3 separate regions of the Homo sapiens genome follow, and regions 2 and 3 are each linked to region 1. The links come from fine-mapping of genetic effects on gene expression. A gene starts in region 1. Each other region holds a variant in brackets. All regions are shown on one strand. Distances are from middle to middle.

Region 1 (4,240 bases):
GATTGAACCAATCCAGATAAGTATGTGAAAACATTTTGTAGGCCAGGCGTGGAGGCTCATACCTGTAATCCCAGCACTTTGGGAGGCCGAGGCGGGTGGATCACCTGAGGTCGGGAGTTCGAGACCAGCCTGACCAACATGGAGAAACCCCATCTCTACTAAAAATACAAAATTAGCTGGGAGTGGTGGCACATGCCTGTAATCCCAGCTACTCTGGAGGCTGAGTCAGGAGAATCGCTTGAACCAGGGAGGTGGAGGTTGTGGTGAGCCAAGATTGCGCCATTGCACTCCAGCCTGGGCAACAAGAGCGAAACTCCGTCTCAAAAAAAAAAAAATGTTATCCGTAAAGTGCTATACCAGTGTTATGACTATTTTAATTAATAACTCCCATTTCACTAGGTTTATTTGCCTTGTCTGCCAGTTCTCTATATGGTTACTAAAATGTGTGGTTTTACAAAATTATTAGCATGGAGTTAAGATTTCAGTACTCAGTGTGGCTCATTAAGTGATGGTGAAAATTTCTAAAAGAGTAGTTCTTAAAACGATATGAGCCATGGCAGCATTCTTAGAATGTATGTAGCTTCTAATACTACCTGAAATGAAAACACTGATTTGCATTGATACTAAATTCTGAGATATTTGTTTTTAAAAAAGCCTCACTGCTTTAACTCAAATCTTTGTAAATTAGCTGAGGTCTTTATTTTTTATATGAATAGCTGTGAGGAGCCAGATTATATATAATGTAAAAATACACACTGAGGCAGGCGCGGTGGCTCACGCCTGTAATCCCAGCACTTTGGGAGGACGAGGCGGGCGGATCACCTGAGGTCCAGGAGTTCGAGACCAGCCTGGCCAACATGGTGAAACCCCGTCTCTACTAAAATACAAAAATTAACCAGGCGTGGTGGCGAGCACCTGTAATCCCAGCTACTCGGGAGGCTGAGGCAGGAGAATCGCTTGAACCTGGGAGGTGGAGGTTGCAGTGAGCCGAGATCGCGGCCACTGCACTCCAGCCTGAGCAACAAGAGCGAAATTCCATCTCAAAAAAAAAAAAACAAAAAACTGTACGATTATGGTTTAAAAAAGAAAGAAAGAAACCACACTGAAAACAGTAATTCGTTTGCCAAATGAGCTCAGTTAGGTTAGCACCTTAGCAAGACCCTTTGGGACCAAGTGGCCTCTAAGCACTTAGGTAGCAGTATCTTTTTTTTTTTTTTTTTTTCAGACTTTTGCTTTTCTAAAATTACAAAGGTGTAGTGTGTCTGCTGTTACAGGATGGAAAAATGCATCATAGGAGGTTAGAAGCTTGTTGGCCTCAGTCATAAAGGGATAAGAAAAATGAGAATTAGGCATAGGGCAGGAAGGACCTCACTCCTCCCAACGCTTTCATTTCTAAATAATGCTTAAGGAAACCATGCCAGGGTTAGTAAAAGAGTAGAGGCACAACCACGGTAAGTGGGCATTGGGGAAAGAGGAAGGAGGGCAGGACATGGGGATAAAGCGGTTTCTTAACTGCGCGTGCGCCCCTGGCAAAGCTGACTAAGGCGCCTGAAGTGACGTCATTGCCTGCATCACAACAGGCGTCGTCCGGCTGATAGCTTATCGCAGGCTCTGAGGGGCGGGACCCAACTGATTGTCAAAGGCGGCAGATTGTAGTTTTTGTTTTGGCCGGAAAGGCTTACCATGAGTTGCCAGGGCTGAGAGAGATGGAGAAGGATTCGCGGCGGTGACAGATTAAATTCCCCAGTTACATTATAGACTTGGAGGTGGGGGATCTTCTCATCGTTAGAGGCCCCGATCATGGGAGATAGGCGGTTCGGAGCCAGTTCTGCCTAACTTTGTGTTCACTGATGTTAGGGCTGCTAGGGCTGCAAAGGTGGGCACCCCTACTCGCCTAAGAGCTTTCTCCTCTCTTCTCTTTTTCCCCTTTGCCTCTCTCCTTACATCACCTGCCCACTAAGTAGACTTGTCCTTGTGTGGACGGGAGCCGGAAAGCCTTGAGAACTTATTCCTCGACCCGGACATGGCACAGGAGAAAATGAAACTAGGTTTCAAGTCGCTGCCGAGTTCCACTACCGCAGACGGCAACATTCTGAGAAGAGTCAACAGTGCCCCTTTGATCAATGGACTTGGGTGAGCCGGGTTGAGATACTGGAGGAGGCAAGCGGTGGGGAGGAGGTGTTCGGGAAAGTGATTTCCTATAGAATTCCCGTCCCTTTATTTGTTGAGGTTCTGCAGGTAACTCCCTTGTTCCTGGTGTCCGGAGATCCCACCCTCAACCTTGGGTGGGGGTAGTGGGACGGGCTGACCTGAGGGGGAGCGCGCACCCACCCTGAGGTTGACAAACATCTGAATCTGAACATCCTCCCCTGATAGTCCACTCGGACCCGAAAGTAGCAGCCAGTTGGTGTGGAGCACGGCTTTTTTCTAACTTCAACCCATTTCTTACCCACTCCTTTGAAGAAACTTAGTATCCTCCCCCACTCACCTCCAGATCTTCTGCCATGACTGTAATATTTGTCATTTCAGCTGCTTTGTCACCTCTGACCTTCACCTCCAGCCGCTTGAATGGAAATGGTTGTCAAGCAAATAAGCTTTGGACTTTTTTACATTTTTTTTTTTGTCTTTTTTTGAGACGGAGTCTTGCTCTGTCGCCCAGGCTGGAGTGCATTGGCACGATCTCAGCTTACTGTAACCTCCGCCTCCTGGCTTCAAGCAATTCTCATGCCTCAGCCTCCCTAGTAGCTAGGATTACAGGCGCCCACCACCACACCTGGTAATTTTTTGTATTTTTATTTTTTATTTATTTGTTTATTTATTTTTGAGACGGAGTCTCACTCTGTCGCCCAGGCTGGAGTGCAGTGGCGTGATCTCGGCTCACTGCAAGCTCCACCTCCCGGGTTCACGCCATTCTCCTGACTCAGCCTCCCAAGTAGCTGGGACTACAGGCGCCCACCAACACTCCCGGCTAATTTTTTGTATTTTTAGTAGAGACAGGGTTTCACCGTGTTAGTCAGGATGGTCTTGATCTCCTGACCTCGTGATCCGCCCGCCTCGGCCTCCCAAAGTGCTGGGATTACAGGCGTAAGCCACCGTGCCCGGCCTAATTTTTTGTATTTTTAGTAGAGACAGGGTTTCACCATGTTGGCCAGGCTGGTCTCGAACTCCTGGCCTCAGGGGATCCGCCTGCCTCAGCCTCCCAAAGTGCTGGTATTACAGACGTGAGCCACTGCTCCTGGCCTACACCTATTTTTTATTGGAGCAGAAAGTTTTGGTACCACAGAAGCTTGATCTCCTAAATTACACATTCTCACTGGGTGATACTTCCCCCAAGGGGAAGAGAAAATAGTTCTTGGGGGAGTGTGAAAAATTTTTACTCTTTTTATGTATAAAGCGCAGATATACATACAGTATGTACACAGATATATACTATATATGTGTTATTAAAATTTCACGAAGGGGGAGCAATTAGGGGAAAAATGTCTAAAAAGGCTTTTTAGAGGGTCAATAATGAAAAAAGGATTTAGAAACACTACACTAAATGATGGTTAACTGTATTTCTGAAGATCTGGGATTACTAAATCTTGTTTCCTTTTTTTTTTTTTTTTAAGACGGAGTCTCACTGTGTCGCCCAGGCTGGAGTGCAGTGGCATGATCTCGGCTCACTGCAACCTCTGCCTCCCGGGTTCAAGCGATTCTCCTGCCTCAGACTCCCGAGTAGCTGGGACTTCAGGCACCCGCCACCACGCCCACCTAATTTTTTGTATTTTTAGTAGAGACGGGGTTTCACCGTGTTAGCCAGGATGGTCTTGATCTCCTGACCTTGTGATCCGCCCACCTTGGCCTCCCAAAGTGTTGGGATTACAGGCGTGAGCCACTGCGCCTGGCCTAAATCTTACTTCTTAAACTAGACTTTTAAAATGAGATGTTGGATTTCACATTTCAGTATTATAAGGTTTTCTAGATACCGTAAAAATGTCTGAAAAATGCATTCACTACATATGTTACTAACTTTGCTCTTCACCTTTTGTTGCATCATACTAATTGATAGTTGTAATTCACAGTACCATAGACTATCAGGAAGGGATTCAGAGACCAGCTTTACCCTCCTTGTTTAACATATGAGGAAACTGAGGCCCATAAATCTCCAAAATGACGTTTAGTGGCAGAGCCAGTACTAGGAAGCTCTGTTTCCTGACTCCTAAACTACTGTTCTGGCCACTACTAACCAATACCTAAG
Region 2 (4,240 bases), 24 kb after region 1:
TAAATATTTTAGGTAATTCAACATTGACTTAATGTTGAGATGTAATTAATCACAAACATTAAAGCAAGCTTGACTTCTATATTTTAAATTTCAGTTGTTGCCACCTCCTCCCTTTCATGGTTCCATCAGCCGCCTTCATCAAATCAAACAGGTAAGAAGACTTTCCAAACTGACAGCTGTTCATTTAAAAAAGTAAATTTTATTTTTCTTTGTGAAAATACCTATGTTTCAGTAATTCTAAGTGAGGTCACGTGTAATATTAAGTTTTTATTTCTAGGAATGATTTCTTCAAAAAAAAAACAAAACTAAGAAGCACTTTTTTTGGCTTATTAGCTATTTTAATTAATTAATAATTTCTAGAAATACTGCATACTCTTATACCTTGAGTCTAGCTTCTTTCTTCCAGGGATCTGAAAGTGGAATGCTACACATAAAAATTAATTTTCAGCTTCATAATAACTGTAGTTATTATTTTTTTAACCCTCAGATGAGTTTTTTTGACAGATAAAATGGCCTTCATGCTATTGTTTTGTTCTTAGTGATCTGAGTTCAGGGACACATTGTACCTCACTGGTTTATATTTTGTGCCCATGTGCACGCATGCACGTCTCTGTGTTTGTGTGTTTGTGTTTGTGTATGTGGTTGGGAGGGTGTATGTGGGTGGGTGGGTGTGCACTCATGTGCACATGCATGCTTAATAGCACAAGCATAATACAGAATTCAACCTTTTAATTATCCAAGGATTAGCCACAGAACTCAAAAGATCAAATCACCACTACCCCACAGGTGGTATTTTTTTCTTTGACCCAGCTACAAGCAGACATTTTTTCCCCCAAGAGAGGCTTAACTTATTATTCACTTAGTACTAACAGGTACTTTACATTTGTGGTCTCATTTTATCTTACAACAACTTTATAAGGTCAGAAACTAAAAAGGGGAGAAATTTAGCAATTTACCCAATCTCCAGAGTTGGTGAATGTCAGAGCCAAGATTTGGCCCCAGATTACTGGATTATTTTCCAGCTCCCCTTTCCCTGTTTCAGTGCACAAAGCCCATAATACCATCTTGTAATCCTAGTTATTAGTCCTCCAACTCTTGCTTCTTTTCCCTCTCTCCCTTTCACCCCTGTGGCATGGCTTCCCTAAGGTCAGCTTATCCACTAGCAAGAAAGTATGGTAAAAATGGTTTTTTTCCTTTTTTTTTTTTTTTTTTTTTTTTTGAGACAGAGTTTCGCTCTGTTGCCCAGACTGGAGTGCAGTGGCTCCATCTTGGTTCACTGCAACCTCCACCTCCCAGGTTCAAGCGATTCTCCTGCCTAAGCCTCCCAAGTAGCTGGGATTACAGACGCCTGCCACCACGCCCGGCTAATTTTTGTATTTTTAGTAGAGACGGGGTTTCATCATGTTGTCCAGGCTGGTCTTGAACTCCTGACCTCAGGTGATCTGCCTACCTCGGCCTCCCAAATTGCAGGGATTACAGGCGTGAGCCACCGTGCCAGGCTGTTTTTTTTACTTTTTAGTGGGTAAAACTTGCTTTTACTCCTGTCTTTGTATGTAGCTATTTTAGAAATTCTTAAGGAATGAAACAAGTTCAAAGGAGTAAAGTGACCTCGTGTTTATCTGTGCAATATGTTTCTTTGCTTCTCCTAAATTAAACCAAATATTTGAAAATGGGTTATGTGTTGCTATTTGCTGGTGAAGCTTGATATAAATCCTAATTTACACTGGTTAGGAATATAAGTTTAATGCAGTTTATTTCCATAGTAACATAATATGTATTATAAATATTTAAAAATGAAATATAAGTAGAAAATGAATGAGATGGGAAAAGAGAAAAACATTAATTTTCAATCTGGATACTGATTGAATGGAAAATTAAGACTTATTTTCAGCAGTTTAATGGTCTGATAGATATCTTAAGTTGCATATTTCTTTTTTTTTTTTCTTTGTTTTTGAGATGGAGTCTCACTCTGTCACCCAGGCGGGAGTGCAGTGGTGCTGTCTCAGCTCACTACAACCTCCACCTCCTGGGTTCAAGGGATTCTCCTGCCTCAGCCTCCCAAGTAGCTGAGATCACAGGTGCGTGCCACCACACCCGGCTAATTTTTTTGTATTTTTAGTAGAGATAGGGTTTCACCATGTTGGTCAGGCTGGTTTCGAACTCCTGACCTCAAGTGATCTGCTCACCTCAGCCTCCCAAAGTGCTGGGATTACAGGGGTGAGCCACTGTGCCTGGCATAAGTTGCATATTTCTTTACATGCATTCTTTGACTGACTTCTTTGTCCCTATTAAACTTAACCTTTTAAGTGCAAAACAGAAATGTCTGGTTCTCTCCCCATTACCTTCTGAACTTTCACTTTAACAACATTAATAAGGGCATTGATTTTTCAAAATGGGGGGAATAATATTGGCTATCTCATAGAATCGTTTTGAGGATGAAAAGAATTACAACTGACCCTTCAACAACCTGGGTTTTTAAAAAGTAATTAATTTAATTTTTACAGGTGCCATGGGGTACA[T/C]GAGATACTTTGATATAGGTATGCAACATGTAATAATCACATCAGGGTAAATGGAGTATCCATCCCTTCAAGCATTTATCCTTTGTGTTACAAACAATTCAATTATCCTTTTAGTTATTTTTAAATGTATAATTAAATTATTATTGACTATAGTCACCCTGTTGTGCTAGCAAATACTGAGTCTTATTTGTTCTTTCTAACTATATTTTTGTACCCATTAACCATCCCACTTCCTCGCCACCCCTCATTTACCCTTCCCAGCCTCTGGTAACCATCCTTCTAATCTCTATCTCCATGAGTTCAAGTGTTTTAATTTTTACCTCCCACAAATAAGCAAGAACATGAGGCTGGGCGCAGTGGCTCACGCCTGTATTCCCGGCACTTTGGGAGGCTGAGGTGGGCAGATCACTTGAGGTCAGGAGTTCGAGACCAGTCTGGCCAACATGGTGAAACCCCGTCTCTACCAAAAATACAAAAATTAGCCGTGCGTGGTGGGTGCCTGTAATCTCAGCTACTCAGGAGGCTGAGGCTAAAGAATCACTTGAACCTGGGAGGCGGAGGTTGCAGTGAGCCGAGATCGCGCCACTGCACTCCAGCCTGGGTGACAGAGAGAGACTCCGTCTCAAAAAAAAGAAAAAAGAAGATAAGTTAGAACATGCGATGTTTGTCTTTCTGTGCCTGGCTTATTTCACTTAACATAATGACCTCCAGTTTCATCCATGTTGCTACAAACGACTGGATCCCTTTTTTTTTTTTTTTTTTTTTTTTTTTGAGACAGTCTTGCTCTATCACCCAGGCTGGAGTACAGTGGCGCCATCTCAGCTCACTGCAACCTCTGCCTCCCAGGTTCAAGTGATTTTCCTGCCTCAGCCTGCTGAGTAGCTAGGTTTATAGGCCCACGCCACCACGACAGGCTAATTTTTGTATTTTTTGTAGAGACAGGGTTTCGCCATGTTGCCCAGGCTGGTCTCGAACTCCTGACCTCAGGTGATCCTGCCTGCCTCAGCCTCCCAAAATTCTGGGATTACAGGCGTGAGCCACCGTGCCCAGCCTGGATCTCATTCTTTTTATGGCTGAATAGTACTCCACTGTTTATATGTATCACATTTTCTTTATCCATTCATCTGTTGATGAACACTTAGGCTGCTTCCAAATCTTAGGTATTGTAAACAGTGCTGCAATAAACATGGGAATGTAGATATCTCTTCTATATGCTGATTTCCTTTTTGGTGGGTGATATACCTTGGAGTGAGATTGCTGGATCATATGGTAACTCTATTTTTCATTTTTTGAGGAACCTCCAAACTTGAACAACATGGATTTGAATGGCGTGTGATGTGAAACCCTCCTATACGTATGGGTGACTTTTTGTATCCTCGGGTTCCAGAAGGCCCACTGTGGACTTGAGGATGTGTGGATTTTGGTATTGCAGTGGGGGGGTGCTGGAACCAATTCCCCACATATACCAAGGGATGACTGTAAGTAATTATGCATAATGCCAAGAGTACTGCATTAAAAAAAATCTTTTTAAATGGAAAATTTAAAACATGGAATATAGAATCTTCATGTACCTAACACCCAGCTTTAACAATTATCCACATTTTGTACATCCTTTTTCATCGATCTGCTTCTCTTTTAGGGGTGGGAGAGAGTGCTTTAAATTTCTGACATATCTTTTTACCCAAGTTTATGGGTATGAGAAGGACTTTTTTTCTCCATAA
Region 3 (4,240 bases), 31 kb after region 1:
CACATAGTGTTCTCCGTGTACATGTGTTTGTTTCTAAGTTTCTCCTTTTCATGAAGGACAGCGGTCATATTGGATTAGGGCCCACCCTAATGACCTCATCCTAATCTGCTTGCTTCTGAATATATTCTGTCTCTAAATAAGGTCACATCCTGAGGCACTGGGGATTAGGACTTCAACACAGGAATTTGAGGGGACACAATTCAACCCATAACAGTCTGCTCACAGTTTTTTGTTATATAGCTTTATATTTAATTCCTGATTTGTTAAACAGGATATGAGTCATTGGCACCCAGTAACAACTTAACTTTCTCTGTAGTGTCTTAAGTAAAAATCAATAAGAAGAAATTGAGCTGGGCGTGGTGGTTCGTGCCTGTAATTCCAGTGACTTGAGAGGCCAAAGCAGGAGGATCACTTGAGGCCAGGAGTTCAAGACCAGCCTGGGCAACATAAGAAGACTCCGTCTTTAAAAAAATTTTTTTTTTAATTTGCTGGCCGGGCACGGTGGCTCACGCCTGTAATCCCAGCACTTTGGAAGGCCGAGGCGGGTGGATCACCTGAGGTCAGGAGTTCGAGACCAGCCTGACCAACGTGAAGAAACCCCATCTCTACTAAAAATATAAAAATTAGCCAGACCTGGTGAGGCATGCCTGTAATCCCAGCTACTCGGGAGGCTGAGGCAGGAGAATCGCTTGAACCCGGGAACCAGAGGTTGCAGTGAGCTGAGATTGTACCACTGCACTCACTCCAGCTGGTGTGACAAAGTAAGACTCCTTCTCCAAAAAAAAAAAATTTAAATTTGATTTTAGTTTACAGATTGTTTCATTCTTTCAACAAGCCTTTATTGGGTACTGTGCAGGCACTCAGTAACTAAAATCTTTCAGATGTAGTCTCCTCGGAGAGCAAAAGTTGGTAACTTACAGTTCCCATTTTTACCATGTATCCTGAAAAATGGAAAGCTAACTTTAACATCCAAGTATAACAATTCTCCTTAAACTAGGTTTCTAGTATACTGTACTCTGCTTCTTACAGTTATAATGCATGGCTGTTGACCTTTTATACTTATTTTAATAATCTTATTTTATTATAAACCATCTCAAATCCATTTTGGAAATAGGCAAGACATAAATGAAAAAGAGTCAACACTCTTCTCCTAACAACCTTCAATAGCTGATTTTAGCTAATGCTCCAACTTTCAGTGGGAGGAATATTAAGCAGAATTCTATCTCAGTTTCACAAAACTACCTGCTCTGTACTTGTTGACCGAATGAACTACAAAATACTTTGAGTTTCACACTAGAGGAGACTATCTATATAATATTAAATTGAAGAACTATACTAACAATTACATTTTGCTGAATTTACTGTTATTCCATTGCTTTTAAAAGACTAATTATCTTCTTAAATTACCTTTTCCAATTCCCTCATTTTCTGTACCTCATTGTGTGGTATCAAAATAGTCACAGTTTTAAGACTCAAAGCTCTCGATTTGATACCTCATTGTATGGTATCAAAATAGTCACAGGTTTAAGACTCAAAGCTCTTGATTTTTCTTCAGTTCTTCCTTATTTTTCTACTGTATCCAATTAGGCTTCTAATCCTACTAATTCTTCCTTGACAATATCCTCTTTGTTGTCACTGCTGCTTCCTTCTTCTGTCCCATGGGTCTAGATTACTGAAATAATATCCCAGTAGATTTTCTGTTTCTCCCAGTTTATCCAACTTCCACAATGAAGACCAAGATAAATGTTTTTTTTTTTTGGAACAGAGTCTCGCTCTGTCGCCCAGGCTGGAGTGCAGTGGCGCAATCTCGGCTCACTGCAACCTCTGCCTTCTGGGTTCACGCCATTCTCCTGCCTCAGCCTCCCGTGTAGCTGGGACTACAGGCACCTGCCACCACGCCCAGCTAATTTTAGTAGAGACGGGGTTTCACCGTGTTAGCCAGGATGGTCTCGATCTCCTGACCTCGTGATCCAACCACCTCGGCCTCCCAAAGTGCTGGGATTACAGGCACAAGCCACTGTGCCTGGCCAAATTTTTTTTTTTTAAAAAACATCATTTTCCTCCCTCTCCCTCTCCCCCTCCCCCTCCCCCCTCCCCCCCTCCCCCCTCCCCCTCCCTCTCCCCACGGTCTCCCTCTCCCTCTCTTTCCACAGTCTCCCTCTGATGCCGAGCGGAAGCTGGACTGTACTGCTGCCATCTCGGCTCACTGCAACCTCCCTGCCTGATTCTCCTGCCTCAGCCTGCCGAGTGCCTGCGATTGCAGGCGCGCGCAGCCACACCTGACTGGTTTTCGTATTTTTTTGGTGGAGACGGGGTTTCGCTGTGTTGGCCGGGCTGGTCTCCAGCTCCTAACCGCAAGTGATCTGCCAGCCTCGGCCTCCCGAGGTGCCGGGATTGCAGACGGAGTCTGGTTCACTCAGTGCTCAATGGTGCCCAGGCTGGAGTGCAGTGGCGTGATCTCGGCTCGCTACAACCTCCACCTCCCAGCCGCCTGCCTTGGCCTCCCAAAGTGCCGAGATTGCAGCCTCTGCCC[G/A]GCCGCCACCCCGTCTGGGAAGTGAGGAGCATCTCTGCCTGGCCGCCCATCGTCTGGGAGGTGAGGAGCCCCTCTGCCTGGCTGCCCAGTCTGGAAAGTGAGGAGCGTCTCTGCCCGGCCGCCATCCCATCTAGGAAGTGAGGAGCGCCTCTTCCCGGCCGCCATCCCATCTAGGAAGTGAGGAGCGTCTCTGCCCCGCTGCCCCGTCTGGGATGTGAGGAGCGCCTCTGCCCGGCCGCGACCCCGTCTGGGAGGTGAGGAGCATCTCTGCCCGGCCGCCCCGTCTGAGAAGTGAGGAGACCCTCCGCCTGGCAACCGCCCCGTCTGAGAAGTGAGGAGCCCCTCCGCCCAGCAGCCGCCCCGTCTGAGAAGTGAGGAGCCCCTCCGCCCGGCAGCCACACCGTCTGGGAAGTGAGGAGCGTCTCTGCCCGGCAGCCACCCCGTCCGGGAGGGAGGTGGGGGTCAGCCCCCGCCAGGCCAGCCGCCCCATCCGGGAGGTGAGGGGTGCCTCTGCCCAGCCGCCCCTACTGGGAAGTGAGGAGCCCCTCTGCCCGGCCATCCGCCCCATCCAGGAGGGAGGTGGGGGGGTCAGTCCCCCGCCCGGCCAGCCGCCCCGTCCGGGAGGGAGGTGGGGGGGTCAGCCCCCCGCCCGGCCAGCCGCCTCGTCCGGGAGGTGAGGGGCGCCTCTGCCCGGCCGCCCCTACTGGGAAGTGAGGAGCCCCTCTGCCCGGCCAGCCGCCCCGTCTGGGAGGTGTACCCAACAGCTCATTGAGAACGGGCCATGATGACAATGGCGGTTTTGTGGAATAGAAAGGGGGGAAAGGTGGGGAAAAGATTGAGAAATCGGATGGTTGCCGTGTCTGTGTAGAAAGAAGTAGACATGGGAGACTTTTCATTTTGTTCTGTACTAAGAATTCTTCTGCCTTGGGATCCTGTAGATCTGTGACCTTACCCCCAACCCTGTGCTCTCTGAAACATGTGCTGTGTCCACTCAGGGTTAAATGGATTAAGGGCGGTGCAAGATGTGCTTTGTTAAACAGATGCTTGAAGGCAGCGTGCTCGTTAAGAGTCATCACCACTCCCTATTCTCAAGTACCCAGGGACACAAACACTGCGGAAGGCCGCAGGGTCCTCTGCCTAGGAAAACCAGAGACCTTTGTTCACTTGTTTATCTGCTGACCTTCCCTCCACTATTGTCCTGAGACCCTGCCAAATCCCCCTCTGCGAGAAACACGCAAGAATGATCAATAAAAAAAAAAACAAAAAACAAAAACAAAACAAAAAAAACATCATTTTCACTTTCTTCCCCCCATACAAAATGTCACAATGGCTTCCCATTACCTATTGAATAATAATAAAAATAGCTAATATGTGTTAAGCACTGAACTGTTTGCCAGGCAGTGTGATGAGAACTGTACAGCCACCTCATCATCCTCATTCTTATCGTCATCTTCATATGGATGAAGAAACTGACGCTCAGGTGACGTCACCTGCCTAAGTTTGCACAGGTAGTAGGTTATAGAGCTGGGATTTGACTCAGTTCTGTTTGTCTCCAAAGCCGGGGTCCTGACAATGACGTGATTCTGCCCAAATTCTTTAAATTCAAACTGTTTGATTATTTAAGAACCTGTAAAACTGGCCCTGTCTTACCTCTCCTGTTTTCTCTCTCATTACTTTGTAGCACAAACTCAGTTTCAGCCAAGGTAG

Which allele goes with the higher level. Positions count from the first base shown, and alleles are read on the strand shown. Sizes are in standard deviations (SD) of each study's normalised expression.
With allele T in place of C in region 2, the expression in atrial appendage of the gene that starts at base 1,662 in region 1 is lower (small effect, 0.27 SD a copy in GTEx).
With allele A in place of G in region 3, the expression in tibial nerve of the gene that starts at base 1,662 in region 1 is higher (moderate effect, 0.42 SD a copy in GTEx).

The links. PIP is the estimated chance that this variant, and not a neighbour inherited with it, causes the effect.
Region 2: its variant is the best candidate, but not a certain one, in a credible set for the expression of PABIR3 in atrial appendage (GTEx, PIP 0.66).
Region 3: its variant is the best candidate, but not a certain one, in a credible set for the expression of PABIR3 in tibial nerve (GTEx, PIP 0.75).

What each region holds. Positions count from the first base shown.
Region 1 is chrX:134,805,576-134,809,815 of GRCh38, forward strand. PABIR3 (PABIR family member 3) reads left to right here and starts at 1,662. Exons shown (of 11, transcript NM_001388447.1): 1 at 1,662-1,766; 2 at 1,965-2,133. The coding sequence starts at 2,024. RefSeq lists enhancers at 2,019-2,178, 2,564-3,520.
Region 2 is chrX:134,829,132-134,833,371 of GRCh38, forward strand. It overlaps PABIR3 (PABIR family member 3), which reads left to right. Exons shown (of 11, transcript NM_001388447.1): 4 at 95-151. Among named protein-coding and RNA genes, the nearest start is that of PABIR3, 24 kb to the left of the region's middle. RefSeq lists a silencer at 2,939-3,153. The variant T/C (reference allele first, on the strand shown) is at 2,520.
Region 3 is chrX:134,836,574-134,840,813 of GRCh38, forward strand. The region is part of intron 4 of PABIR3 (PABIR family member 3); the gene reads left to right. Among named protein-coding and RNA genes, the nearest start is that of PABIR3, 31 kb to the left of the region's middle. The variant G/A (reference allele first, on the strand shown) is at 2,534.